Homo sapiens: one gene and its partners. The protein of the gene in region 1 purifies or fractionates together with the protein of each later gene. This does not show direct contact. Each region holds a gene or a part of one and is shown in the gene's direction. Other genes may lie near its edges. The genes, in order: SIK2, MYH11, PPP1R12B, ALPL, FMNL2, SHROOM3 and CDH13.

Region 1 (3,950 bases):
TTACCCTCCAGAAAAGGAGTACCCGTTAATTTTCACCAGGAAGAACTCATATTTTGCAGGAATATTATTTTCTAAATCTCTGCCAACTTGATAGCAGAAAATAATATTCTTCATTACTTTTAAATTTTTTTCTATTTTTATTTTTAATTAACAAATACATGTTTACATTTTGTTACTTCAATTTGCATTTCTTTAATTACTTTGTACAGTTTTATATGATGATGATTTGCATTCCTTTTATAAATTTTTTTGTCCTTTGACCCATTTAATTGCATTGTCTTTTTTGTTGATTTGTTTAAATACTTTTTAAGATAGGGGATTATTTTTAATCACTTCTTTAATCATCTTAAAAATTCTCAGTTTAATTTTTGTGAGTATATAACTATCGGACCATTTACCTTTTCCCCCAATCTGTTTTTCCTACCCACTATTATAAAAGTCAAATCAATTTTTTTTTTGGGGGGGGGACAGGGTCTCACTCTGTCACCCAGGCTGGAGTACAGTTGCGAGATTACACCTCACTGCAGCCTCCACCTCCCAGGCTCAAGTGATCTTCCCACTTCAGCCTTCCAAGTAGCTGGAACTACAGGTGCACACCACCATGCCTGGCTAATTTTTAAATTTTTTGTAAAGACAAGGTTTTGCCATGTTGCCCAAGCTGTTCTTGAACTCCTTGGCTCAAACAGCCCTCCCACCTTGGCCTCCCAAAGTGCTGGGATTACAGGCATAAGCCACCATACCCAGCCTTCAAATTAAATCCTAATGAGAATTTATTATTTGAATAATTTTAAAAGCCAAATTTACATTGGAAAAAAGTCTCCTTTTTATTTATTCTGAGAGGGTAACTAGAGAATTCTCTATTTTACTACTGACTTTTACTGCTTTCAGAAAGTCTTTCATTATAGACCACTCAATCACACTTGCTTTTCAATCAAATGATAGGCTAGTAGGTTGTAATTCCACCAATGATTTGTTGTATAAGCTGAAAGTTGTATTTATTTTTTAATTTCAAAGGTCTAATGTATGGTATGATAGAGCTAATGTTACTTGGTACTTCAGAAGGACAGTGTAGAATTAGTATATTAGTAATAGGACTGGAGTAAATATTATCTAAGACAAGAAACACATGTTAATCCCTTGTAATTTGTTATTAGAAGAATAGCTCTTATTTGTAACTTCTTTATAAAATCTCCAAAAGCTACTTTTTTTGGCTTTAATCTGTGGATTTATAGAACCCAAAAGCAACTTTTGTATATGTGGTTTCTTTAAATGAGATTAGTATTTCTTTTATGAGAAGTTAATTTGTTTTTCTAAAATCAAAGAGACAGGATAGGCCAGGCATGGTAGCTCACGCCTGTAATCCCAGCACTTTGGGGGGCCGAGGCGGGTGGATTGCTTGAGGTGACGAGTTTGAGACCAGCCTGGCCAACATGGTGAAACCCCATCTCTACTAAAAATACAGAAATTAGCCTGGCGTGGTGGTGCATGCCTGTAATCCCAGCTACTTGGGAGGCTGAGGCAGGAGAATCACTTTGAACCCTGGAGGCAGAGGTTGCACTGAGCTGAGATCGCACCACTGCACTCCAGCAGTGACAGAGCAAGACTCTGTCTAAAAAAAAAAAAAAAAAGATAACAAACAGTTTGAAAAATGAAAAAATTCCATTTATTCATCAGTTTAACACTTTTTACATTTCTGCTCTTACATTTAATTCTTTGTCCTCCTGTATAAAATTTGTATTTTACATAGTTGTTACTTTCATAGTGTTTTTTAAAATTTCACATTGTTAGAAACATTTCTGTATATATGGTCTTCTTAATATTTAAATCATAAAATAATATAGCCATTTTCTAAAGAATTTTGAAAATGAGAAAATGAAAACTAATATATCTCAGAGAATTAGTATATGATAAATAACTGTCATTGTTCTGGGTTTTTTCTTATTAGAAAAATAATACATGTTCACTGAAGAAAAATTGCACAGAAAAGTACAAAGCAGTTTTTTGTCATCTTTTTCTACTCATACCTTATGCTGAGACTGCACTGATATCTCAGTTTTCTAATACTCTATTGATTATATGTACACATAAGGCTGGGTGAGGTGGCTCACACCAGTAATCCCATACTTTTTGGAGGCCAAGGCAAGAGGATTACTTGAGCCTAGGAGTTTGAGACCAGCCTGGGCAACATGGTGAAACCCACTCTCGACCAAATGTGTGTGTGTGTGTGTGTGTGTGTGTGTGTGCACACCTGTAGTCCCAGCTTCTTGGGAGGCTGAGGTGGGAGGATCATTTGAGCCTGGGAGGCAGAGGTTGCAGTGAGCTGAGATCGCGCCAGTGCACTCCAGCCCAGGCAACAGAGTGAGACCCTGTCTCAAAAAAAAAAAAAACTACACATAAATCTTTGTCCTCATTTCAGATTATTTCCTTCAAATAACTTCTCAGAAGAGTCCTTAAGCTACATGGAATGGATGATTTTTAAGGTTCATAATAAAGACTACTAAATTGCTTCCCAGAAAAATTATAATCTATTTTATATTCCTACTAACTATCTGAAACAAACATCTCACTGAACTTTAGCTGACCAGGTTATTTATTTTTTAATCTTTATAAATATAATAAGTGAAAATGGTATTTTGTTTTTAATTCATATTTCCCTGAGTATTTTGAAGTTGAATATTCAATGTTGCTACTTTATGTGGGATTTAGTTTGATAGTAATCATTCTAGTTTGTCCTAATGTTCTTCAGTTTATACAGGAAACCTTTATTCAGTCCTTTAGTAGAAGGAGTATTCATTTTTCTGTCATATAAATTTATTGAAAGTTTTTTTAAGATAATGTATATATAATGATTAGAGAGTTGAATAGATGAACACCACCAAAAAAGGGGATCTTTCCATTCGTGGAGTTCCTTTCTTGACCTACTTTCTTGTTACCATGCAGATTTTGTCTCTTATACTATGTTGAGAACTAAATAAGAGAAGGGATATAGAGAGGAAGTTCCCAGAAATCTAAGTTCATTCTAATCCTTAAAAGGAACTATTGGAACACAACCCTTTTGCAAATTAAGGACTTTCAGTGCACCTTTGGGGAAATCCCCAAATACTTTTTTTTTTGTTGGTAAAATGTGTTCATCTTCTTCTTACATACCTATTAAATTGTTGAGGGTAGGAATCAAATCTCATTCATTTTTATATCCCAGGCATAATTCCTGGCACACAACAGATGCTGTGTAATGTATTACTACAAGACCCTTTGAAATAGTGAAAAGATTAAAGTTGGAGTTAGAAGGCCTAGGGTTTTTCTTCCTTAATTCATTAGAGCTTTAAGACCTTTGTTGATTATGTGACATTATTTGAACCTCAGTTTCAACTCATGAGTGTACTGCTTGTTTCATTTACTTCACAGAATTGGGAAATAAATGAGATAAAATATGCTGAAGTATCTTTAAAAATGCTGTGCAGTTGTGAAAGTCATCACCATTGTTAGTATTATACATATTTCTGGGAAGTACTTGATAGAGAGCTCCATTGTTAAGAAATTACTTGGATGAGTTTGGCAGACTGCTAGCTGATCATTGAAAACTCTGCTGTTTCCTCTTCTTTCTGGGCCTACAGCTGGACTGTTTCTATGCCACCCTTGCATTTAGGTGTGGTCATATGCGGAGTTCTAACTAATGGAATGAACAGAAGTAATAGGCACCACTTCCAGCCCTGGCCCATAAAATCACCCATGAAGATCCCTCAGAGTTCTTTTTTCCTTCTGTCTAGCTGGAATGGAGACCGCCTTCAGGTTAACCTTGGAAGCCACACATTAAAGATATTAAAGCCTCTTTGAATTTCAAAAGTCTGCATTCATCTAGTTCTGCTACGTGAGCAAGAAATAAACTTCTGTTGAGTTTGAATCATAAGTTTTGGGGTGTATTTGGTAAAGCAGTTAGAGTTCCCATGTTA
Region 2 (3,950 bases), on another chromosome or scaffold:
TCTAGGTCTTTCTAACTCCAGAGTTTCACAGATTACCCTCATGGGAGGATTTGATGAGCTAATGTGTATGAAGGGTTTAGCACAGTGCCTGGCCCCTGGTAAGCTTCAGTGATGGTTATTTATAGCAAACACAACCAGAGAGTTCAAGATGTTTGCTCAGTATGGCATGGCTCATCTTTGGCAGAACCGGGAAGCCTAAACTATGTGGCCGTTAAAGGAGAAGCTTCTCTTAATTTTCTTCCCTTTGATCTCATAAACCTCGTTTCTATTTGGGCTGAAAGTGGTGATTAGAATCTTTAATATATTAAGCTACCATTCCTTACCTGGATTGGGAATGTTACAAATTCCAATTACATTTGTTTAGGGTTTTGTTTGTTTGTTTTTGAGACAGAGTCTTGCTCTGTCGCCCAGGCTGGAGTGCAGTGGTGCGATCTTGGCTCACTGCAACCTCCGCCTCCTAGGTTCAGGCACTTCTCCAGCCTCAGCCTCCTGAGTAGAGAGTAGCTGGGTTTATAGGCGCCCACCACCATGCCTGGCTAATTTTTTGTATTTTTAGTAGAGATGGGGTTTCACCATATTGGCCAGGCTGGTCTCGAACCGCTGACCTCAAGTGATTCGCCTGGCTTGGTCTCCCAAAGTGCTCAGATTACAGGCGTGAGCCACCGCGCCTGGCTTATTTAGGGTCTTGATGGCATACTTTAAGGGATGGCCTTTTTGCTCTCTAGGTCTTCTCCTTCCACTCCTGACCTTTCAACTTTTAACCCTGGCCACACAATGGAGGAAAGACTGAATTTAGAGAAAGGCAGGCAAGAATTTGAAAGAAACCTTGTATGTGATCCAAGGACAGAGGAAGAAGCTGCTCACAGTGGCTGAAAGGGGAGGTCGGACATCTGTGACTTGTATCAGGGTTTCAGGGGCTAAGGAGGAACAACCTCATCAAAGTTGCTAGGAAAGGGCCATAGAGGCCAGGTATGGCAGGTCATACCTGTAATCCCAGCAATTTGGGAGGCTGAGGTGGGGGGATGGCTTGAAGTCAGGAGTTTGAGACCAGAGTGGGCAACATAGCGAGGCACCATCTCTACAAAAAAATTTTTAAAATGAGCTGGGCATGGTGGCATGCATCTGTAGTCCTAGTTATTCAGGAGGTTGAGTGAGGCAGGAGGATTGCTTGAGCCCAGGAGTTCAAGGCTGCCGTGGGCCCTGATTGCATCACTGTTCTCTAGCCTGGGCAACAGAGTGAGACTCTGTCTCAAAAAAAAGGTGAGGGGCATAGAACTTTACTGTACCAGGCTGAAAAATACAAGGCCCAGAGAGGGCAAGTGACTTGCCTAGCATCACCCAGCGAGTTTTGGGCAGAGCTGAGACTTGTAACTCGAAGACCTAAGGATCTTCCACAGGCTAATGAATAGCTTGTTTGTGCTCAAGGGATGAAGCAGTGAGTTGTTAGGACAGGACTGTGAATAGGGCTGACATATTCAGATGTGTCAAACATCGCTAATGCCATCTCTGAGTAAATTAGGCTTCAAACAGATCGGGATTCTAATCCTGGTTCCCCAACTTTTGCAAGGGAGGGCCTTGCATTTACCTTTCAAGACCCCGATAGGCTTAGCAGGAAAATGGGAATAATAGATAATGCCACTCTTTCATCCTTGGACTTTTTGTCTAATTATATGAATTTATCTGTAGGATAAATTCCCAGAAATGCGCTTGCTGAGTTAAAGGGCATGCGTATCTAAAATTAATAGATATTGCAAATGACTGGCTAAAGACATTGCAGACCAGGTGCAGTGGCTCACGCCTGTAATCCCAGCACTTTGGGAGGCCGCAGCAGGTGGGTCACCTGAGGTCAGGAGTTCAAGACCAGCCTGGCCAACATGGTCTCTGCTAAACCCTATCTCTACTAAAAATACAAAAATTATCTGGGCATGGTCGTGGGCACCTGTAATCCCAGCTACTCGGGAGGCTGAGGCACGAGAATCGCTTGAGCCTCAGAGGCAGAGGTTGCATTGAGCCGAGATCACACCACTGCACTCCAGCCTGGGCAAAGAGTGAGACTCGGTCTCAAAAAAAAAAAAAAAAAGGCATTGCAAATTGCAACTTGTTGCAGTCACATATGACAGCAGTCCCCATCCTCTTGGCACCAGAGACTGGTTTCGTGGAAGACAATATTTTCCAGGGTGGAGTGGGGAGGATGGTTTTGGGATGAAACTGTCCCACCTCATCATCAGGCATTGGTTAGATTCTCATAAGGAACGTACAACCTAGATCCCTTGCAGGTGGAGTTGGCAATAGGGTTTGTGCTTCTGTGAAAATCTAATGCTGCTTATCTGACAGGAGGCGGAGCTTAGGCAGTGATGGTCACTCACCCACCGTCCCCTCCTGCTATGTGGCCTGGTTCCTAACAGGCCATTGACTGATACTGCAGCACAAGGGTTGGGGACCCCTGACATAGGAGACTATACATTTATTTTAAGCTGTGGTATGCCAGAATTGTAAAATATAAAACACAGTGGGGCTTTTAGGGCCAGAAATAATCAGTTCTTGCTCGCTTCCAGAAGCATCCTTCACAGGGGCTACCGTAACTCTTGCCAACCAAGTTCTCTTGGTTGGGAGGAAAAAATAGTGTTATGCATTAAGAGAACTTCTTTCTGGAGTTACTTGAAACCATTGGTATTCAGATGATTAGGCAGATGTCACAAGGCAATAAGAATGTGACAGGTTCACCATTCACTTTTTTTCCTGTAAAAGTGAAGTAGGGCTTTCTTGGGAACAAGCCCTTGGGAGGTGGGGGGATGTGAATGGTGAGGGGAGGGTAGAAATGGTGGAGTAGGGTCAGGGGCAAGAAAGGGACTTTCTGCTAAGAATTAATCGGGTGTCCATTTACTCTTAGCAGAAAACTAGGATTAGATTCTGGATTGTACTCCTGACTCCAAATTTTACAAGTGGGGGTCTTGCATTTACCTTCCAGGACCTCGGTCATCTTAGCAGGAAAATAGCAATAGCAGGTGATGCCACCTTACAGAGCGCTTAGGAGACAGTGAGATGGTCTATATAGGAAGCTGTCTGGCCTGATACCTGATGAATACAAGGGGCCCAATAAATACAGTGGCTGTTATGAATAATAGATCTAAACTGCCTTTTTGGTACTACTGGGGACCTGCCAAGCAGGTGCATTTAGAGTGCCCAGTGCCTCTCCCTGCGACACATTTGATGCCTCCCTACACCTGGACCAGGCCTTGAGCGAGGATTTCCACTGCAGAGGTCCTTCCAGCTGGCGAATTGTGTTGCAGATCAGGTTCAGAGAACTTCTGTTTTGCCTGTGTGGCATTCATTCATTCGTTTATTTGAAATAGAGATGGGATCTCACTGTGCTGCCCAGGCTAGTCTAGAGCTCCTAATTCAAGCAATCCTCTTGGCTTGGCCTCCCATAGTTCTTGGATTACAGGTGTGAACCACTGTATCCAGCCCTTTATGACATTTAGAATATGAGCAATTTTTCTTTTTTCTTTTTTTTCTTTTTGAGATGGAGTCTCACTCTGTCACCCAGGCTAGAGTGCAGTGGCATGATCTTGGCTCACTGCAACCTCTACCTCCCAGGCTCAAGCGATCTTCCCACCTCAGCCTCCCGAGTAGCTGGGACTACCGGCATGTGCTGCCATGCCTGGCTAATTTTTGTATTTTCTGTAGAGATGGGGTTTCACCATGTTGCGCAGGCTGGTGTCAAACTCCTAAGCTCAAGCGAACTGCCTGCCTTGGCCTCCCAGTGTTGGGATTACAGACGTGAGCCACAGTGCTGAACCCTGCATGGTATTTAGAATATAAGCAATACTCTAACATCTGGTCTGGGTCACTCTGTATTACTTACCTGATCTCCAAAAACATTTGGGTTTTTGTCTCTGGTCCAAAATCTTTAGCCAATGGCTTGGCAGTAAAATCCTGAGGGAAGCTGT
Region 3 (4,654 bases), on another chromosome or scaffold:
GGATGCGGTGGCTCATGCCTGTAATACCAACACTTTGGGAGACTGAGGTGGGTGGAACACTTGAGCCCAGGAGCTCAAGACTAGCCTGAGCAACATGGCAAAACCCTGTCTCTACAAAAAATACAAAAGTTAGCCAGGCATAGTGACACAGGCCTGTAGTCCCAGCTACTTGGGGGGCTGAGGTGGGAGGATCGCTTCAGCCTGGGAGGTTGAGGCTACAGTGATCCACGACCATGCCACTGCCCTCCAGCCTGGGTGACAGAGCGAGACCCTGTCTCAAACAAAACAAAACAAAACAAAACAATCGGACAGATACATGTTTTATAACCCAGTCTTGGTGAATATAAAAATGTTCTATTTGCTACCTTAGGAATTTAGTATGATTTAGTATGCTTGATAGTATCTTTCTCTAGCTTTGAAAAAAAAAATCATGGGACAGGTACAGTGGCTCAGGGCTGTAATACCAACACTTTGGGAGGCTGAGGCAGGAGGATCGCTTGTGTCTAAGAGTTCCAGACCAGCCTGGGCAACATGGTGAGACCTTGTCTCTACAAAAAAATAAAAAAATAGTGGGTGTGGTGGTGGGCACCTGTAGTCCTAGCTACTGGGGAGACTGAGGTGGGAGGATCGCTTGAGCCCAGGAGGTTGAGTCTGCAGTGAGCCGTGATTGCGCCATTGCACTCAGCCTGGGTGACAGAGTGAGACTCTGTCTCAAAAGAAAAGAAATAAAAATCATGGAAGACATCTATTCTGTCTTGTAAAAATTTAAGGTATATGAAAAGAGTAGAGGAGGAGGAGGAGGGAGAAGGAAGAGAAATTATTTATTGGGATCCAATATGTGCCAAAGATAGTATTAGGCATCCTTGCATGTATTATTTCATTTGATCCACATGACTACCCTGTGAGATGTTATTCCCATTTTACACATAAGAAAACTGGCTAAGAGAAGTCAAGTAATTTGTCTGCGGCTGTGAATTCAATTTAAATTCACAGCTTAAACTCTTTTCACTACATCTGAATGCATCATTTTCAAGATCTTTTCTGGGCCTGGAGTAAGTTGACAGTATTTATGTAAAACATGTAATACTGTATCTGTATGTATGCTCCTCTTCCCCACGCTCATTCACATTTACCGTGATTAATACACATGTTAATAAAACCCTAGACTTAGAACTAGGATATAGAATCCAGTCGTTTAGGTACTTAATGTTTAGTTCTCTCCTCCAGAAAACAGGAATAATTACCGCCTTTTTTCCACTCCAAAGAATTGATGTGATAATTAGGGAGATAAGATTAGTTACTAGTCATAACAAGAATAAACTACAACTCCCAAAATGCCCAGAGGAAGAGGCTGACGCCAGTCCAGGAGACAGTTCCAGCTTTAGGGCAAAGGTGACCCCACTGGGTCCCGTGGCGAAAGAGAGAGCCGCCGGTCCTCGCCTTTTTTCTGATGCATCCAGGGATTTGTAGTTCCCTTACGGCCACCAAGTGCACTTAGGGCAGGCCTCTTACTACGAGTCCCGTGATGACCCGAGGCCGGGCAGCGCCTGCGTATTGAAGCCGAGGGAGCGTGCGGGCGGTACTACTGGCGGGAGGAGTAAAGATGGCGGCGCGAGGGTCTCCGCCCTCTGCTCCGGGCTGAAGCGCTCTGAGAGAGGCGGCAGCGGCAACTCGAGCCCCAACAGTAATTTAGTGTTGGTAGTTTTGGCAGCAGCTGCCGAGGCCGGAGCAATGGCGGAACTGGAGCACCTAGGAGGGAAGCGGGCAGAGTCGGCGCGAATGCGGCGGGCAGAGCAGCTTCGGCGCTGGCGGGGCTCGCTGACAGAGCAGGAGCCTGCGGAGCGACGAGGCGCGGGGCGGCAGCCGCTGACCAGGCGCGGGAGCCCCAGGGTCCGCTTCGAGGACGGTGCTGTCTTTCTGGCCGCCTGCTCTAGCGGGGACACCGACGAGGTGAGAAAGCTTCTGGCAAGAGGTGCTGATATCAACACGGTCAACGTGGACGGCTTGACAGCCCTGCACCAGGTAACTCCTTTCTTGGTCTTAGAGGCGTCCAGTCTCCTACAGATGAGCCTTTGACCCTGCGAGCCACCCCATGGGGAGTATCAGTGTTGCCGCCGACTCCTTCTGCATGGACACTGCCCTTTTGGGCTAATCGGTTTCATTCTTGGCCAGCTTCCTCCACTAATCAAGTCTTTTTCTGACCCCAGGGTCTTAGGAATAGCGTCACCCCGCTGCTTGGTCAGTGTTTGTATTTCCCTCCACCTACTTGTGTTGTCATGGTTACTGGTGATTTTTGTCCCTGGTCTTATCCCTGTAGATTAGTTATCTTCACTTATGTCTGGTTGGCGTGCCTGCACACCGCGTCACTCATAGGCACAGTGTCATTTGTTTGATGCCCTTTCAGAAAATTCAGTTGTTGTGTGTCCCCGTTATAGAATATCTTATATCACTTAAAGAGTAAAGCCCTTTACTGGGTAAAGACAAGCAGGTCTGAAACCACACCTCTTGTTTTGTTGATTTGTAGTACTTCAAAACAGTTTGTGTTGCCTCTAGGCTACAGCTCCTAGAACACGCTGGACCTCGTTGTTTTAGGTATCTTAACTTCCTTCTCAGCAGTGCTACCTCCCTGAGAGCTTCCTATGGAGAACTAAGTTACTGAATTACCTCTGTTTGATACTTATGGAATAGCTTTTCTATTTTTCTATTTTTTTTTCTAAAGTGCTCTATAGAAATCCCATGCCCCATGTATAGCTATACTATATGGATTGTGGATAATCTGTGCTTGGTAACGACACCTTTACTTCTGTCACCTAATGCAGCAATATTCTCTGTCTACTGACTGCCATGACTAACTACCCCTCTCTCCTCAAATGGAACTTCATCAGTTATTTTGGTGAGCTGAGAGCCGGACACCCACTCTTAATCTTTTGTATTTTTCTTCTTCTGCCGTCTGTGCAAAGTGAATGTATTGGCATGAGAATCTACTTCTAAATAATAACTCAACTTTATATCAGACCACTTCCCTAAATATATTTAGCCAATAGCTTAAAAAGTTACTTCTCACTATGTTTGCAACCCTTCTATTTCAGGTAGAAGAAACTCTTTCACCCTATTTTGTACCCATTTTTTTTTCCTGCTGATAATATTTCCCCACCTGAGGTAGTAACCAATATTTGTAGAGTGCTTTGCTGTTTGATTTCATATGTCTTACCCCATGTGAGTTTCAGCAGTGATCCTTTGAAGTAGGTGTGGCAGGTAGTGTTGTTATTCTCATTTTACAGATGAGGAAACTGAAGCTCAGGAAAATTATTTGTGCAAAGTTAGAAAGTAAAGAAGTGGCCCATAGGCATGGATTTTTCAGACTTATGTCACAGAGATCTCTATCTCACTTAATAAGGAGCTGAATGTAAAATGAGATAAAAGCTAAGAGAACCACATTAAATTCTAAACTTTAAATTTCTGAACTCTTTGGGAAGGTGAATTCTTGTTTTTCTTTTTCTTTTTCTTTTTTTTTTTTTGATTCAGAGTCTCGCTCTGTTGCCCAGGCTGGAGTGCAATGGCGAGATCTTGGCTCACTGCAACCTCTGCCTCTTGGTTTCAAGCGATTCTCCTGCCTCAGCCTCCCGAGTAGCTGGGATTACAGGCGCCTGCCACCACGCCTAGATAATATTTGTATTTTTAGTAGAGATGGGCTTTCACCATGATGACCAGGCTGGTCTCAAACTCCTGACCTCAGGAGATCCACCCTCCTTGGCCTCCCAAACTGCTGGGATTATAGGCATGAGCCGCTGTGCCTGGCCTAGTAATCTATTGAAATAAGAGAAGAAGGGGATGACAGCTATGGATTTTTTTTTAACATCTATAAATGCAATATAAGCATTCCTTTCCATTTATAGGGCTGACAAGGAGTTGAACTGAACAAGTATACTCGATTCTAGACAAATTCAGCTAAAAATTAAGCTGCTTAAAGATTTGAGGTCTGTTGAGAAACTGTATCTTTGAATCAAGACAACGGGCCTTTATTGGCTTCAGAACATTACAAGTCAGTTTCCGAAGAGTTACAATGTGTGTCTCCATGACTTGGAGAAGTTTTTGTTGTTGTTGTTGTTGTTGTTGTTGTTTAAAAAAAAAAAAAACAGTGTCTCACTGTATCTCCCAGGCTGGAGTACAGTGGTGCAGTCTCAGCTCACTGCATGCAACCTCCGTCTCCCAAGTTCAAGCTATTCTCATGCATCAGCCTCCCAAGTAGCTGGAACTATAGGTGCCCACCACCATGCCCAGCTAATTTTTGTATTTTTAGTAGGGATGGGGTTTCGCCATGTTGGCCAGGCTGGTCTCAAACTCTTGGCCTCAAATGATCTGCCTGCCTCGGCCTCCCAAAGTGCTGGGATTACAGGCATGAGCCACCGCGCATGGCCGACCTGGAGAACTCCTAAGGTACATAAAAGACTATTTTCAAATGGGAGACTGGAGCTGTTGGTAGCTGAACCACCTACTTTACAATGGATTCACCTTCTGTGAAATGGAGAGTGAGTGGTACAATTATCTGAATTATTTATTTAAAATGTCCATTTGTTATACAAGCACGATATAAATTATCTGGATAATTGCTTCTTTTCTCTCTTTTGGCCATGGCCACTTGACCAACTGTGGA
Region 4 (3,950 bases), on another chromosome or scaffold:
CTTTTAATCCAGGGAGTAGGATCCAGTAGCAGAGCCCGAGTTCTCACCTTGAAATCAGTCTGACTTGGCTTTTTAATACAAAACCCAGAGCTCTGAGAGAACATTGCTGGGAGAGTGAGCAAGCTGGGCTGAGAACCAGCACTCAGAAATCTCCATGTGGCCACAGGAATGCTGACTTGGCTTCCCAGCACCATGTCGTCGTCCTTGGCAGGCTGGAGCTGGGCTTTGTGGTATGTTAGATTTGTTTTTTTTCTTCTGGAGATGTCCTCACTTTCAGAGGGCAGTTAGGGGCAGTAGACTGAAGGTTCATTCCCAGCACTGCCATGCGACCCTGGACAAGTCACCTTCCCTTTCGAAGCCTCAGTTTTCTCATCTGCAATATGGGTTAAAATTATATACTTTGCAGGGTCGCAAGATCATAAATGGTTTTCCAACTTTGGGCTGAACCAGCATTGATGTTATTAAGACATTCATATTTCCTGTGGAGCAATTTCAAAAGCAGTTAACTTTATCCCTACCAGGTGATCCTGAGGGCCTGAGGGAAGTCCACGTTTAGGTCACAAAAGCCTACACAGCAGGGAAAACACTGGTTTGGGGGCTGGTGTCTTGGATTCCAATCGCCAGCTGTGTGACCTGAGGCAAGTCACTTTACCTCTCTGAGTGTCAAGCTCATAGGAGGCCCCCAACATCAAGATATGATGCTCAGTGTCTGAAGAACATAGTCTCCGTATTTTTCTGCCTCCTTGTACCAGCTCCCAACCCCCCCGCCAACACTTCGTTAATTGCTCCCAGAAAAACTCTATGCTTAAAGTTTTCCATGCTTAAATTCTCAGCCTCACTGTGGCATGAAATCAATTGTTTGCATTGAATTTGACTTCTCAAATTAAGGGGTAAAATTTGAGATGAGAGTAGGGGGTTAGGGAGGAGATGAGGACGAAGTTAAACCAGATGTGCTTTTGTTTAATTGTAGGATGGTGGTTAAGCTGCTCAAGTATTACCATCGTTCTTTCTGAATTCCAGTAACCAGGAGTCAGGTTTCACAAAAAGTCGTAGTGTTCTTTCCTGGCTGGTGTGGACTCGCCCTCTCTATTATTATTATTATTATTATTATTACTATTTTGTATTCATCTGAGGCCACAGAGTACTGGCCAGAGAGGAGACATAGATCCCCAGAATTTCAGTTGGAAGGCCTTTAGAAGCTGGCTCGGTCAACTGGGCTCTTGGTGCACCAGGGAGACTGAGGCCCAGAGAGGAGAAGAGGCTTGCCCAGGGTCACACAATTGCTTAGGGCAGAGTGGACTGGGAATTCAGTCTCCTGGCCTTAAGCTACATGATCTTTCCAAAGGCAACCACTCTCCTGAATTTGGTGTGTTTCATTTCTACAGTATATTCTTAGCATATCTGTTTTTTGAAAATCATTGTTTAAGGGAGGATGCAGATGATGTGGGTTGGTGGAAAAAGATATTAAGCTCAGGAGAGCTGAGCTGAAGTCCTTGAATACCTCTGTGACCTTGGGCAAGTCACTTCCCCTGTCTGAGTCTCAGATTCTTCATCTGTAAACCAATATATCTGAGGAGTAGGAGTGGAGAGATGAGACTTCCCTAAGACTTGGAATGGGTCTAATGTATTCAACTGGTCCTCAGATATTTATAGCCTGCTGTGTGCTGGGTTATGGGAGATCCATCACAAACTGCCTTCCTAAGGCTGCAGGGGGTGGGGGATTGTTGACTTTTGCGGTGATTAAACAACTTTTATTTAGTTGCTGGTGTTTTTAAACCAGGCAATTTCATTTTATATAAAGATAAGGATTTCTGGCTTCTCTTGAAAGATCAGAAGATGTGGCCATATGGGGCTATGTCCCTGCCTGGCCACAGTGGCTGGAGCTGATTAGCAGCTGCTCCATCCACTTTACCACAGTCTCCACCACGCCCCACTGCCTCACACTTGCCCACCTGCCTCCCTGACATTACCTACCTACCTTCTGAGCTTGCGGTTTCTGGGCTAGATGCAGTGAGGCCATGTAAGAGGGGCTCAAATTCCACTTGAATGATTGTGTGGGGCTTGGGCCAGCCCTCAGGGGGCTCAGGGTGAGAATATGGGACACGTGGACACTAGCCCCTCTTCCATAGCCTGGCAACATCTACAAAACATGTCAGCTAGGCGAAGGAGCTTTTTTCCTGCTTCGGTGGTCCTCAGGAAGAGTCTGAGGGCTCTGGAGGTTTGGGGGTGATAGAGCATCTACCTGTCAAGGCTCAGCGAGTTGAGCCCAGGGTCTAGCTGGGGACAGGCATCGCTGGGTACTTCATTCTAAAGATTGCACAGCCCCTGCAGGGAAGAGACTCCCTTGACAGCTTCCACCTTACCCCTTGCTCCCCAAGAGCCCTGTGCATTGGTGCGCCACTTCACCCTGTGCTCCCTAACAGCCCTGTGCATCAGTGCATAACCACTTCTCAGACAGGAAACACGATCTTGCACTCTGAACCCACAGCTCTCTGTTCCACCCCCTTTGCTGGGAGCCAGGGCCTGGTGATGACAGGCAGGTACCATGGTGGCTGCAGCAAGCATCTTAGAATCGCCATGTCTGAGCCAGAGGGTAGCACAGGAGGCTGTGAAGCCTGATGGTTACATGCGGGGGGCTCTGGAGGCAGCTGCTGTGATGTGAGATTCTAGGTCTCCACGAATCAACTGCTCCAGGGGTTATGAGATGGACAAGGGAGACTGATTGATTGTCGATTGCTGATACTAACCTCACATCCCCTGGTCCTTACACCTGCAGACGACTTCAGAAATGTGCCCTGTGTGGGAAGTGGCATTTTGTGAGCACCATTGGGTACCAGGCACTTTCGCACATTACCTTTGATACTCACCTACCCCCTACTCTCCAGCATTTTGCAGTTAAGGAGACTGAGGCTCAGAGGGCAGACACCTTAGGATTACTCCTCCCCTAGGTCTCTATGCCTCTCTGCTTTGACCCAGGGAAGGGAGGAGAGGACAGGCTGGAAGGTCATTTCTGGAAATAAGGCCGTGGAGACCCTGTAGTGAGGCCCTGACCCTCCAGACTTTCTAAGCCACCCCCTCCTCCTCCACTCCAGCTTGTTTCAGAGATGCTTCTTCATCCTTCCAGAGCTCAGTTTGTCATTCAGGTGCATGAACTTTACCTGGCCAGGTCTGCAAACTGCTGGGCAGAGCTCAGCAAATATTTTATGTTCTTTAAAAAAGTTTTTAGGTGGCTGAAGCAAATTGCTTTTACTGGAAAAACCAGAAGTGTGACCTTTATTTTATTTTTGCAGAGATGGGGCCCTGCTATGTTGCTCAGCCTGGGTTCAAGAAGTCTACCCACCTTGGCCCCTGAAAGTGCTGAGATTATAGGCATGAACCATTGTGCCTGGCCCACAAGTGCACCCTTTAAAAAGATCTACCAGGTGACCCTTTTTTAGACTGAGTATCGCTCTGTTCCCCAGGCTGGAGTGCAGTGGCGTGATCTCGGCTCACTACAACCTCCGCCTCCCGGGTTCCAGAGATTCTCCTGCCTCAGCCTCCCATGTAGCTGGGATTACAGGCACATGCCACCACACCCAGCTAATTTTTGTATTTTTAGTAGAGACATGGTTTTGCCATGTCGGCCAGGTTGATCTTGAACTCCTGACCTCAGGTGATCCACCCTCCTCGGCCTCGCAAAGTGCTGGGATTACAGGCATGGGCCACCACACCTGGCCCCAGTGACTTTTTGTTGGGTCAACCTCTTGCCTTCTTTAGTGCACCTTTACTAGGTCAGTAAAGCCACAGGGTGGGTACCACTTAGCTCTCAGGCTGACGTTCTCAGGCCTCTTGCTGGCTGTCACTGAAGTGTCTCAGGCTTGTTGTTTTTTTGTTTGTTTGTCTGTTTTGTTTGTTTGTTTTGTTGTTGTTGTTTTTTGAGACAGGGTCTAGTGGCTCTGTTGCCCAGGCTG
Region 5 (4,603 bases), on another chromosome or scaffold:
AGAGGATGAAGAACCACAAAGCTGCATATGAGGCAAAAGTGTAATTCTGGCCTTTCATTACCAGTGTGGGCTAGGAAGCAGAGGCTTGAGAGGATTGGGGTATGCAAAACTATTTTTTCCTTAAATTTAAGAGTAGAGGCTGGGCATAGTGGCTCACACCTGTAATCTGTAATCCCAGCACTCTGGGAGGCCGAGGTGGGCAAATCTGTTGAGTTCAAGATCACCCTGGGCAATGAAGCAAAATCCCCATCTCTACAAAAAAAAAAAAACAAACAAACAAAGTTAGCCAGGCATGGTGGCAAATGCCTGTAGCCCAGCTACCTGGGACGCTGAGATGTGTGGATCCCTTGAGCCCAGGAGGTGGATGCTGCAGTGAGCAGAGATCACCACTACACTCGAGCCTCAGTGACAGAGACTGTCCTCCCCTCACAACCCCCGCCCACCCCCCCAGAAAAGAGTAGGGCAGGGTCACACAAATTCCAATGAGTCAAGGAGCCAGGAAGGTAACAGGCCTGGTAGGAACTGTGCTGAACCTAGAGCACAGATCTTAGCTCCAACTTCTTTTTGCTGTGTAGGAACTGGGGCCCGGTTTTGCCAGATCTTCCAGTTTTTCAAAAGAAGCCAGAAACCCTGGTCTTTATGTTAATTACCAATTTAAACACCAGGAAACTGTACATGTGCGGGGGGTGGGGGGGCACAGTGGAGCAAACATTCTGTGGGTCAAATGTGGTCCATCAGCTGCATTTTCAACTTGTTGAGTAGATAAAGGGATACAAAAGATTCAATTTGGTTTAATTCTGTTATTTGTTTGTATTTCCCTTTCTAAAGATAGCATGTATTCTAGCAGAAGTCAACAATACTAAGTTAATGAAAGGGAAGTAAATACTAATTAAACAGGAAAAGTATAAAGCCTGCTTTACTTTTTTCACTATGCCCTGACTTCATCAAAGGGAGGCTGCATAGCCTAGCCTGCTGGCTAGCTACCTGACTTACTCAAGAAAGCATGCCTTCATACTGAGTTCTTGTATAAAATTCCTCTGCTCCTCCCACTTCATCCTGACAGAGCAATGCCTATTTGGACTGGTATGCAGTGATTGACTCATTCATTTAACAAGGATTTTCTTATGCAGGAGGGCCCACACAACTACTTCTTGCTGACGTAACATAAAAAATATTGGGTGGTAGAGCTCGGTAGTCCCCACTTCTCAGGAGGCTGAGGTGGGAGAATCGCTTGAGACTGGTTCAAGTCTGGCCTGGACAACATAACAAGACCCCATTTCTTAAAAAAAATAGGTGGCAGAAAAGGATGCCAGGGAATAGATTATTATTTTGGTTTAGATTTAATGGTTAATTGAACATCATTTTGTTTAAAATTTACAAAATAATAAACTCAGCTAGCTTAATGGAATGAAAATAATAGAGCCCTTATCTGCAAACTGAAGGTCTTTAGGTTCTTGTTAAAACTGCGAGGAAAAGATGGGACAGGACAGTCTGCTTTATTAATTTTGCAGTTTAAAATTTATTGCAGTTACTATTTATTCATTCAGGCTTCCAGAATAAAAACAAAACAAAAAAATTAAGCTACAGCTGCTTCTAATTTAAGAAACATTTCAAAATAAGACTTCAGCTAGACTCTGGCCAGTGACAGAAATAATCTATGTATTTTTCTCTCAAAGTCCTAGAATCCTACCAGTATTACATCCTGTTTTGTTTGATTGTAAATATTGAAGGCAAATGTTTTATGTCTTTGATTCAATGCTCAGTGAGTTTGAAGGGCCCATTAGCTGACTTTTCTACACAAGCTGCTTTGATTGGCTGCCAGCTGGCCTTTGTCCTGCTTAGACACATGCTATTAAAGGTTGCTATTCTCTCACTGGCACTCTCCCCTTTACAGATCTTAGAAACCAACCATACAGACGAGCCGATGCGGTGAGGAGAAGCGTCAGGCGGCGCTTTGATGATCAGAACTTGCGTTCTGTTAATGGTGCCGAAATAACAATGTGAACCTGAGACTGGCCTGCATGAATACAGGGTGTGCGTGAATGAAACTGCCCACATGAACTTTATGTGCTACGATTTAACTGCAGCCTTGAACACACACAAAAATATTCTTAAGGGCTCAGATTTAGCAAACACGGAAGAATTTTAAAATGAGCTCTCCTTTCAACCCTTGTTAACAAGTGCCTAAAAATGGAAGTACCTGTTCAGATTAATCAAAGCAATAGGATTTGATTTGATTAGGTATCTTTTTACACCAGTATGTTATTTTTAACCAAAATGTAAAGTTCTTATTAAACTCATTACCTGCCATTGTGATTGTCCCATCATGGCCCACCTGGTTTCCTGATGTTGTAAATAACATCAATGCATCTGCTGTGGGTCCTTTGCTGAGATGTCTTCGAAGGAATTTTGTTTTAGCCATATCCATCAACTTTGTATTTTACTTGCAATTTGGAAGAAGGAAAGTCACATGATGAAACTCCTTTTGTCTATAACCAGGCCCTGGCAAAGTGCAAACAGGATGCAACTGCAGTGGCACAAAGGTCACTCAATCCTTTGTTTCCAGTTTCACATTCTACTACTTCTGCGCTAGAGAACGATGCTCTGTGAGAGGCATTCACTAGTATGAATGTGGGGATATAGTGTATAAGACTTATTTGCAGTACTGTGTTCTTCAGCTAGAGGCAGCTTTTTAAATAATGCAAGTGTATTTATTAGCATTAAAATTAACATCTCAGTAATCAGCATTAGCATTTCTGAGGACCATTATTAATTCTGAGAACAGAAATTGGTGCCTTGCAAGGAAGTTTACTAGCTCTATCAACAAGCATTCAAGGTTACATCTGCTAGCAGAGTAGTGTTAGGAACCTGGCCTTACTCTCCTCTGACAATCGCAATTTTTTCTTATTTTTTATAAATTCAAGAAGATACACTTGGCATCGTGTATCGAGGCTAAGTTTTTCATGCATTTCCCAGACTACTTATGGAGAATTGCAGTTTAAGTTGCTGAAAAGTATTAACATGGTATTAAGCTTAAATAATACGTAATGGGACTAGATGGCCCACTAAGCCACTGTTATTTTCCTTCCTCTCTGGCAGGGCACTTGATCCATTCCAAAGTCAAAAACTGGACTGAAGCTAAATTTGTACTTTTCATAATATACATTCTGCTTCTGGCTTATCTTCTTGGTACATCAATATATTAATTGTAAAGTTTATTGTATAGTATTTAACCGCTGAAGTTCCTATTTTATGTTGTGCTTATGTGAACCCCTTGGTGAAGGTCCCTTTTCCTTGGATGTGTAGTTATATGATCTTTTTAAATGTACAGATATTTTGCTATAAAATCGGTGCAGTTTTTTATGGTTTTTACACTTCTCTTTAATTCCCACCTAAGCCTCTGGGTAATATTGTAAATATTGTTTTAAAATGCATCAGCCTATGCTATACAATCTGAATGTTATTTTAACTTATAGTTTTTTTTAATATATATATTTAACTATAAGGACAGTTTAGGGAACAAGTTACCTACCACATTTCACTTTAGTGTACCTATTTACAGAAAGATTAAACTGCCACCTGCGGGCACATTCCCATAAATGTGTACTTTACTTTAAAAAGAACATGCCACGATTTTGTCTTTCTGTGGACTCAACATTCACTTCGATTAAAAATAGCAATTTGACCAAGTTGGACTTCCACTACAAAGCAGCTGTTTTCCAAAGTTCAATGCTGACATATATGTATATTAAAATAATTGCCTATTTATTAATCTACAAATAGACAACGTTGGCATGTTCTTTTCTGTTTGTCTATTAATGGGCCTGCTTCTTAGCAATATTAGAATGTTTTATAAAAGCAATTCATGTTACTTTTCTGGTCTTTTCATGGCATATGAGCAAATAATAAACTATTTACACTACTATTCTGTAATATGTTGTAATCTTTCAATGGTACAATTTAGGGGGTTTTAGCAATATTATGTAGACTTACCTTCTAGAAACAAATATATCTTGCTATTTGAACTCAGAATCCAAATATACTTGGTAAACGTCAGGAAGGATTCCTCCCTATGTGAACTCTTGACCGCTTGCTATATAAAACATAGACAATGGATCTTGGAAGTGAGACTACATCTCCAAAATTGCATTTATAAACATACACCTTCTAGGTAAACAGCACCTTTGTTTGGTGAAATGCCACAACGCCCCCAGCAGCCCCACCAAATGTTACAATTAGGATGTTGTACAAATAAAGATAATAGGCTATATATTAACTGCATAGTTAACCCTGCACCCAATAACCATACCAGTTGGCAAGGCAAACAAGCAGTTTGGCCCCCATTGCACAAACAGTTGTAATAAAACTCCCAGTCATCAAAAGTTTATGTGTAACATTTCATATGTTCTTTTTATGGAAACAAGAAAAATTTTAAATTTTAGAATACCTTTCAAGTGGCTTAAATTTAGAGGCATATATATTATAGTCATTTAAGGAATTATAATTTATATAATTATTGTCACAACTACCACAGCGTACTTTGCATTTGTCACACACAACTGCTTACAGATTAAAGGCAATAATCTTTATTCCTCACAAGAAG
Region 6 (3,950 bases), on another chromosome or scaffold:
GCTGGGTCTCTTGGTGGGCAGCCAGCACCCATCCAGACTCAAAGCCTCAGCCATGATCCAGTCAGTGGAACTCAGGGTTTAGAAAAGAAAGTCAGTCCTGATCCTCAGAAGAGTTCAGAAGACATCAGAACAGAGGCTTTGGCCAAGGAAATTGTCCACCAAGACAAATCTCTAGCAGACATTTTGGATCCAGACTCCAGGCTGAAGACAACAATGGACCTGATGGAAGGTTTGTTTCCCCGAGATGTGAACTTGCTGAAGGAAAACAGTGTAAAGAGGAAGGCCATACAGAGAACTGTCAGCTCTTCAGGATGTGAAGGCAAGAGGTAAGTCCCTGGTGATGTCCTCAGAGAGACTTACAATCACACTCCTTCCATGGGGATGATGATAAGTCTAGGACTAGTTGCCTGATGTTCTCCTACTGCCACAGCTCCTGAACCAAGAGTGACATTTTATCTCAGTCTTGGAGGAATGGCTCTGGCAGTGAGGATGTGGGACAGATATGCAACAACAAAGAAAGTAATAGTAATAATTATAATAATTGCCATTAGTACCCATTGTTAACGTTGTGTGTCAAACATTGTATTAATTTATTTATATCAACATTATTTAATTTTCACAAGAACTTTCTGAGGTGGCTACCAATTTTACCTCCATTTACAAATGAGGAAACTGAAGTACAGAGGAATTAAGACCATGCTCACCAAGGTCATTGAACATGTGAGTGATGGCACCTGGATTTGATCACAGCCCCATGACTGTGCCTGTCTCCAGCAATTACACAGTGCCCCCAGCTCAGCAAAGGTGTACTTGCCGGTTCTGTATCAGAGCTGCTCTGGCAGAGAGGCCCTCAGAGCTCGGTGCTGGGAAAGGAGCAAGTGGAAGTGGTGAGCGTGGCCAACGTCTTGCCAAGACTGAGAGGGGAAGGGCTTTGTAAGGAGGAGAGCCTAGAGAAATAGATTCGTGTACTACACTGACCCTTACCTCTGAGGCATTAAGGTGGGTGTTGGCGCAAATCCTGAAAATCAGGAAAGGTCTGAGTAGGAGCGCACTGTCTGGTTTGGCCCAGTCCGTGAGCCTCTGCTTCTGAAGCTCCTTGAGCCAGCCATGTAACACGTGTCCCAGTGTGCAGTCTGTGCTTTTCATTTCTCCTGGGTTACTGCAGTATTTTCTTGCATGTTTTATTTCCTTAAAAGACTACTATGAGAAAGACTGAGTAGCTTTCATTTTCTCTTAAATTTTCAGTGAAATCTTTGTGGATTGACAGTCTGGGACTCAGCAGTTAGTGGCTTCCAGACTAAATAAAAACAGAACATTTTATCCAAATTTGGGATTGCATTTTAAAAATTTCCAACTGATCCTAACTAAATTACTAACAGGAACACCACGTTTCATTTTATGGGGGAGAGAGAAAGGAAAGAGCTATGTGATACTTACAAGCTATTTGTCACATTGTCAGAGGCTCTTCTGATTCAAGGCCTTAACTGTCACCTTGTCCATTTCACTGCTTTTATTTTCAGATTTGGGAAACAGACTAATTGAGGTGAAGTGATTTATCCAGGGTCATGTCTTTAGCAAACACATACTGAGCACCTACAATGTGCAAGGCAATCCACTGGGTACTATGGGGACCCCAAAGATAAGATTTTTGTAGGTGTGCCAGTCAGTTCACCATGGGTGGTTGCAGTATGGTCATTCTGTTCTCTGACCACTGGCTGAAGGACCAAAGTAACATCCTTAGCAAAGTATTTCCTAGCATTACCACTGGAAATATATGTTTGCTCCGTCAGTTTAGAAGCAGAATGGTCATGGAGCTTTTGCAGCACTGAGACCTTCCTGGGGATTTAAAAAAAAAAAAAAAAAGGCATGCGCCATCTCCTGGTGGAAATAAGCATTGTCCTGTTGGGCATGAGATGGCCAGTAGCCATTGTGAGGGTTGGTCAGATGCCAGAGAATCCCATTTGTAATGCGGTGGACATATCTGAAAACAAAAACAAACAAAAATGTATCAGAAAATCTTTTCCCTGTCTTTCAATTAACTGGATTAAATGTGGTCATTGTTGCTTACTGGGACAGTTATCAAGCAGGAAACTAGTAAAGATGATTTTTTGTGTGTGTGGTTCCTAATTTCATAGTAAAATGATGGGCTAGATGTTAAATAATATCACAAGATTAAATAAAGTTCCTCTCCAAGAGAATCGTACTTCCATAGAGTCATTTATTCAGTGGGTAGGATATGAATTATAGGCTGAAAGGCAACTCAAATGTGGTAAAACAGAGAACTACTAGATAGCAGGTTTCTCAATTCTGAGTTTTTTCTTCAGCCTTAAAACATCCCTATTATATTATCAATGAGTAGATTTTATATCTTGTATTAGTTCACTGCGGACCAGCAAACTGCAGATTTCCCAGGATTATATGGGATAGCAGGCACACTTGAGAAGGAAAAATTTTGTGTGTTCAAGCAACAGTGCATAGTAGGCACTAGAAAGATTACATGTAACCAAAGGAGTATAGGAAATAATTGACCTAAAACCTGAGGTTTGTGCAGCACCTTGAAAATACTTTCACATTGATTGAGTCATGGTTCCACACTGCCTTTCTCTGAAATAAGGAGTCAGTGTCGTTCTTATATGAATCACAAAAGCAGAGAGGTTAAATGTCTTCTCCAGAGTCAGCTGGCGAGGCCATAGCCTTGACTCCCACTGTCATCCCTAATGCTGCTTTTGGTGGTTTTCCATCCCAAGTTTGCCTGGCTTCAACAGCCCTGTACATAGTAATCACTCATTAGTTAACAGTTACTAGTTTATCCTAATTTCTGGGAAAGAAATTAAATAGAATTGTTACGCACTTCTGAATGGACTGACATCTGCAGTGAAACAAAGCCTCTGGCGTGATCTGTGTGGCTATACTTTGTGCTCTTTTTGGCCCAGGAATGAAGACAAGGAAGCAGTGAGCATGTTGGTTAACTGCCCTGCCTACTACAGTGTGTCTGCTCCCAAGGCTGAGCTACTGAACAAAATCAAAGAGATGCCAGCAGAAGTGAATGAGGAAGAGGAACAGGCAGATGTCAATGAAAAGAAGGTAAATAAAGAATGGGATGCCCTTGTTCAGCTTTCCTCAGAAAAATTGACAAGGTCCATGTAATCAGCGTGGTGACTGGGCCTCTTGAGGCAGGTGGGGAAAGGACCTGTCACATCACCAGATTGCACCAAAATCATTAGACTTTGGATTTACATGGCACTTTAACTAATTTCCTCTTAGCTTTTCTGTGAGTAGGCAGGGCAGGTAAGCTACTGTACTTTTCGTTTTTACAAATAACAGAAGTGAAGCTTAGAGGGATTATTAGAAGTCTCATAGCCAGGACTTGAACCCAAGTCCCTAGCCTCCTAATCCAGCACCAGGACCCCGACACTGTTCTCAGCTGCTGGTTGGCCAGTGCCAACGGTGTGTGTAATTTTCTTGTTTCATAGTCAAAAGGAAAATTTTAAAATCTAGAAACTTTTTTTAGGGAAGGAGGCCAATTGTTAAATGACACTTCTGAGAAAAAGTAATATTAACCTTTATATCTTCCCCAGCCCTTTTTGAGGGACTTCAGCGAATAGCTTGAAAGTGCAGTGCTGGAATCTAGTTGTTAGCATTTGATACTCCTACAGAGATTTCAAATGTTAAGACACTTAAAAAATGACCGTGATGCTGCTGCTGTCTTCCCACATGCCATGGAGATCTAAACTGGGCTGTGTCTGCAGGGGAGAAAGTTCTCGCCTTCCACTTTCTCTATAGCACCAGAGGGGCTGCCTTCTGCTGTGCTTGCAGCTCTCTATGCAGCTCAGGCATGTGTGCTGCAAAGGAAAGCTTGCTTGCTTCTTGCTGAGCCTGGAAGGTAAGTGGTTTTCAGTGATCCTGATTCCAGGAGAAACTTTCTAGGGTGATTTTATTTCATTTGATCT
Region 7 (3,950 bases), on another chromosome or scaffold:
ATATGCATGCCTGGCTGGGTGGGGTGGCTCATACCTGTAATCCCAGCACTTTGGGAGGCCGAGGTGGGCGGATCACAAGGTCAGGAGTTCAAGATCAGCCTGACCAACGTGGTGAAACCCCATCTCTACTAAAAATACAAAAATTAGCTGGGTGTGGTGGCACACGCCTATAATCCCAGCTACTCAGGAGGCTGAGGCAGGAGAATCGCTTGAACCCAGGAGTTGGAGGTTGCAGTGAGCCAAGACTGCGCCATTGCACTCCAGCCTGGGCAACAGAGCAAGACTTTGTCTCCAAAAAAAAAAAAAAAAAAAAGCCAAGATGAGCAAAAGATAGCCAGTAAACACTTTTAAAATTTTATTTTTCAACGTATTGTTTGCATAAAACAAAATGCATCCGTTGCAAGTGTACAGTTTGATGCATTTTGGTAAGTGTACAGAATTTTATACCACGCCCTAGTCAAAATACAGTTTCCTTTGCTATTGATCCCCTTTCCGCAATCCAGGCTCTCATTGATCTGCTTTCTCTAATAATGGCTTTGTCTTTTCTAGAATGTCTTAAAGTGTACCAGTATTTTGTTCCTTTCTATTGCGAAACGTATTATGGACAGACACGGCCTGCAAAGGCATTAAACCCAGGTAGAGTGGGCTGTCTTCGGCCTGCAGACGGCCGCGGTCATGCTTTGCAGAGGAGCTGTGGCCCCTTAAAGTGACATGACATTATGGACAATGACAGTTGATCCTTGGGGGCTTTCCATGCACCTTGCGCATGCAAGCTAAGGGCTTTACATAAATTAAATAAATTTCCTCAAGTAACCATCTCAATAGCCCTGGGACGAGTCACTTATGTTATCATCTAAATTGACTTAAAACAGGAATTTGAGACTCTAATTTGAAAACAAGAGATTGGAGCCTATTTAGTGGATTTTATGCAGCCAAAGATGTTTCTTGTTGTTGTTGTTGTTCTTGCTTTTAACTAATTTGCCTCCCAGGAGACAGTTGAAATGTCTAGAGACATTTTGATTATTATGCCTGGCAGGACGCCACTAGTGGCATCTAGTGGATGGAGGGTAAGGGTGCTGCTAAGCGTCCTCCCATACACAGGACAGCACCCCCCACAAAGAATTATCCAACCCCAAATGTCAGTAGTGCTGAGGCTGAGAAACCCCACTCTGCTCTCTAACCAAAATTAGACACAGAAAGTGGAGACATTCTACCACCCTGACAACATCAATGGCTTTTGCCCATTTAAAACAAGAAAGAGGAATATGTATCCAACCCAAAACAACATCTTAACATTCTTTCTAATAGGCTTTTGCAAAAATAGTTCATATTTTATAACTGTCTTGCAGCATGGGGTATAAGTGTAATCATTGTAAAAATGAAACCTAATCATTGTAAAAATGAAACCTAATCATGGTAAAAATGAAAAGAGTGCCTCAAAACATCTGAAGTTCTTAGCAGAGGGCAGCCTGTCTTCAGTGGGCACTTTTGGATGGAGGCAGGACTAGGGTATCAGTAGGAGTGAGAACAAAGGTCAGAAAAATGAGTACACAGCACATGTATACTGATTAATTTCTTTCTTTTTTCCTTCTTTTGATGGAGCAAGACTGTAACAGAAGCCTGAGAGTGAGGAAGGGCTTTGCCAACTATTACTGTAGACACAGTAGTTTACTCAATTTTATGAACTCTTAGTCCTGGGCTGGAATTCACGCCTCTGCTGGAATTGCACAGACAAAACGTGCTTGCGAGGAGTAAGGTGGCAACAAAAGAAAAATGCAGGCAAAAACACGCCTCATTTTGAAACCGGATCTGAGCATCCTAGAGCCAGAGCCTCTCCCAGCCAACATTGCTGAGTTGAGCAGAGTGACAGACTCCACACTGGAGCCAGCCCCGCAGCTGGCCATAAGGAGGAGCCACGAGCAGGTGCTGGGAAGACAGGCTCTTGAACGCACACTATGCTGATGTCTCTTTCTGTGAAGTTTTCTACATGAGTGACGTTCTCAAAGTCTGCAACACAGTCTGCCATGAGATGCCTTTTTTCCTCTGGGAACACAATGCTACTTTCGTGATTGGCTGAGTAATGGCCCCCAAAGATGTACTCTTCATCCTAATCCCTGGAACCTGTAAACATGTTACCTTATATGGCAAAAGAGACTTCGGGCAGGCACCTGTCATCCCAGATACTCAGGAGGCTGAGGCAAAAGAATCGCTCAAACCTGGGAGGCGGAGGTTGCAGGGAGCCAAGATTGTGCCAATGCACTCCAGCCTGAGCAACAAAGTGAGACTCTGTCTCTAAAAAAAAAAAAAAAAAATTTCTCAGATGTGACTCAGTGAAGGATTTTGAGATGGGGAGAGTATCTTGGATTAGCCAGGTGAGCCTGATATAATCACAGAGTCCTTATAAGAGGGACAAAGGAAGAGTCGATTAGAAACAGACCATGTGATGACAGAAACAGAGGGAGGTCAGAGGTGAAAAAGAGAAGATGCTGCAGTGCTGCCTCTGAAGATGAAGGAAGGGGCCATGAGCCAAGGGATGCAGGCAACCCTTAGAGGCCAGGAAAGGCAAGGGAACGGATGCTTTCCTAGAGCCTCCAGAAGGAGCACAGCCTGGTCAACACTGATTTGAGCCCCATAAGACTGAGCTCAGTCTTCTGACTTCCAGAACTGTAAGAGAATAGATTCGTGTTGTTTGCACTTTATGGCCATTTGTTACAGGAGCAACAGGAAATTAACATACCATGTTTGGGCCAGGTGCAGTGGCTCACAGGTGAGCCTATAACCCCCAGCACTTTGGGAGGCCAAGATGGGAGGATCGCTTGAGGCCAGGAGTTCAAGAACAGCCTGGACAACATGGCGAAACTCCATCTCTATAAAAAATGCAAAAATTAGCCAGGCATGGCGGTGCATGCCTGTAGTCCCAGCTCCTCCGGAGACTAAGGTGGGAGGATCGCTTGAGCCCAGGAGGCAGGGGTTGCAGTGAGCCAAGATTGTACCACTACACTCCAGCTGGGGCAACAGAATGAGACCCTGTCTCAAAATAAAAACATATCATGTTTGAAGAACCACCAATAGGTATCTTGCTCTGTGACTTGTGATCCTTAAGTCAACATATATATATATATATAGTCACAGGAAGTCGATACATATATGGGATAATCACCAATCTCTAAGATACATAGCATGCTCATAAAATAGCCAAGCTCTGTGCTGAGAGACAAAGACATAAGGCTCATTGGTAACGGTGGTAATAGCAGCTCTCGGTCTGAGCGATGTTTGGCATCTGAAGTCACCATTAGCATTTTCAGAGAAGTCCAGCTTTTTACCATATAACCATTCATTCTGTCTTCCAATGTGATCCTTAAGGAAAAAAAAAATTCCCCCATAGTCGTGTGATGTTTAAAATGTGTTTATTATACCTTGCCTGTCATTTTTCTGGCTTTTAGCTAAAATGTTTTGAATTGAGTGGTGATATTCCCGACTTAACTCTGAACCCTCTCTATTCAGGTCTGTGAGAACTCCTGACGTCTGAAGCTTGACTCCCAAGTTTCCATAGCAACAGGAAAAAAAAAAATCTATCCAAATCTGAAGATTGCGGTTTACAGCTATCGAACTTCACAACTAGGCCTCAATTGTTCCGGTTTTTTATTTTCTTTACAATTTCACTTAGTCTGTACTTCATCATTTTGACAGCATCTTCCTCCCTCCTTTAATTAATGGAATCTTCTGAATTTTCCCTGAATGTTTAAAGATCATGACATATGACTTGATCTTCTGGGAGCAGGAACAATGACTACTTTTTCTGGTGTGTTAACATGTCGCTAGCCAGTGCTCCAGGCACCCAGCTTTGTCTGTGGGTTAGTATTGGTGTATGTATGAGTATCTGTATGTATATATACACGGTATTTATAGAGAGAGACTATCCTGGAGAAGCCTCGTTTTGATGCCATTCT

Evidence for each region.
Region 2: the proteins of SIK2 (region 1) and MYH11 purify together in Homo sapiens (affinity purification with mass spectrometry, with the first as the bait; one large-scale study listed by BioGRID). This does not show direct contact.
Region 3: the proteins of SIK2 (region 1) and PPP1R12B purify together in Homo sapiens (affinity purification with mass spectrometry, with the first as the bait; one large-scale study listed by BioGRID). This does not show direct contact.
Region 4: the proteins of SIK2 (region 1) and ALPL purify together in Homo sapiens (affinity purification with mass spectrometry, with the first as the bait; one large-scale study listed by BioGRID). This does not show direct contact.
Region 5: the proteins of SIK2 (region 1) and FMNL2 purify together in Homo sapiens (affinity purification with western blotting; one study listed by BioGRID). This does not show direct contact.
Region 6: the proteins of SIK2 (region 1) and SHROOM3 purify together in Homo sapiens (affinity purification with mass spectrometry; one large-scale study listed by BioGRID and IntAct). This does not show direct contact.
Region 7: the proteins of SIK2 (region 1) and CDH13 purify together in Homo sapiens (affinity purification with mass spectrometry, with the first as the bait; one large-scale study listed by BioGRID). This does not show direct contact.

Annotation. Positions count from the first base shown.
Region 1 is NC_000011.10:111,608,876-111,612,825, forward strand, and holds part of SIK2 (serine/threonine-protein kinase SIK2), read left to right. Parts: intron 1-3,950. UniProt on the Homo sapiens protein: Serine/threonine-protein kinase that plays a role in many biological processes such as fatty acid oxidation, autophagy, immune response or glucose metabolism.
Region 2 is NC_000016.10:15,850,465-15,854,414, reverse strand, and holds part of MYH11 (myosin-11), read left to right. Parts: intron 1-3,950. UniProt on the Homo sapiens protein: Muscle contraction.
Region 3 is NC_000001.11:202,347,121-202,351,774, forward strand, and holds the start of PPP1R12B (protein phosphatase 1 regulatory subunit 12B), read left to right. Parts: upstream 1-1,578; 5' UTR 1,579-1,731; coding exon 1,732-2,022; intron 2,023-4,654. UniProt on the Homo sapiens protein: Regulates myosin phosphatase activity. Augments Ca(2+) sensitivity of the contractile apparatus.
Region 4 is NC_000001.11:21,511,973-21,515,922, forward strand, and holds part of ALPL (alkaline phosphatase, tissue-nonspecific isozyme isoform 1 preproprotein), read left to right. Parts: intron 1-3,950. UniProt on the Homo sapiens protein: Alkaline phosphatase that metabolizes various phosphate compounds and plays a key role in skeletal mineralization and adaptive thermogenesis.
Region 5 is NC_000002.12:152,645,902-152,650,504, forward strand, and holds the end of FMNL2 (formin-like protein 2), read left to right. Parts: intron 1-1,894; coding exon 1,895-2,004; 3' UTR 2,005-3,925; downstream 3,926-4,603. UniProt on the Homo sapiens protein: Plays a role in the regulation of cell morphology and cytoskeletal organization. Required in the cortical actin filament dynamics.
Region 6 is NC_000004.12:76,756,612-76,760,561, forward strand, and holds part of SHROOM3 (protein Shroom3), read left to right. Parts: coding exon 1-326; exon of another isoform or gene 327-477; intron 478-1,437; exon of another isoform or gene 1,438-1,981; intron 1,982-2,933; coding exon 2,934-3,084; intron 3,085-3,950. UniProt on the Homo sapiens protein: Controls cell shape changes in the neuroepithelium during neural tube closure. Induces apical constriction in epithelial cells by promoting the apical accumulation of F-actin and myosin II, and probably by bundling stress fibers.
Region 7 is NC_000016.10:83,791,519-83,795,468, forward strand, and holds part of CDH13 (cadherin-13 isoform 1 preproprotein), read left to right. Parts: intron 1-3,504; coding exon 3,505-3,512; 3' UTR 3,513-3,950.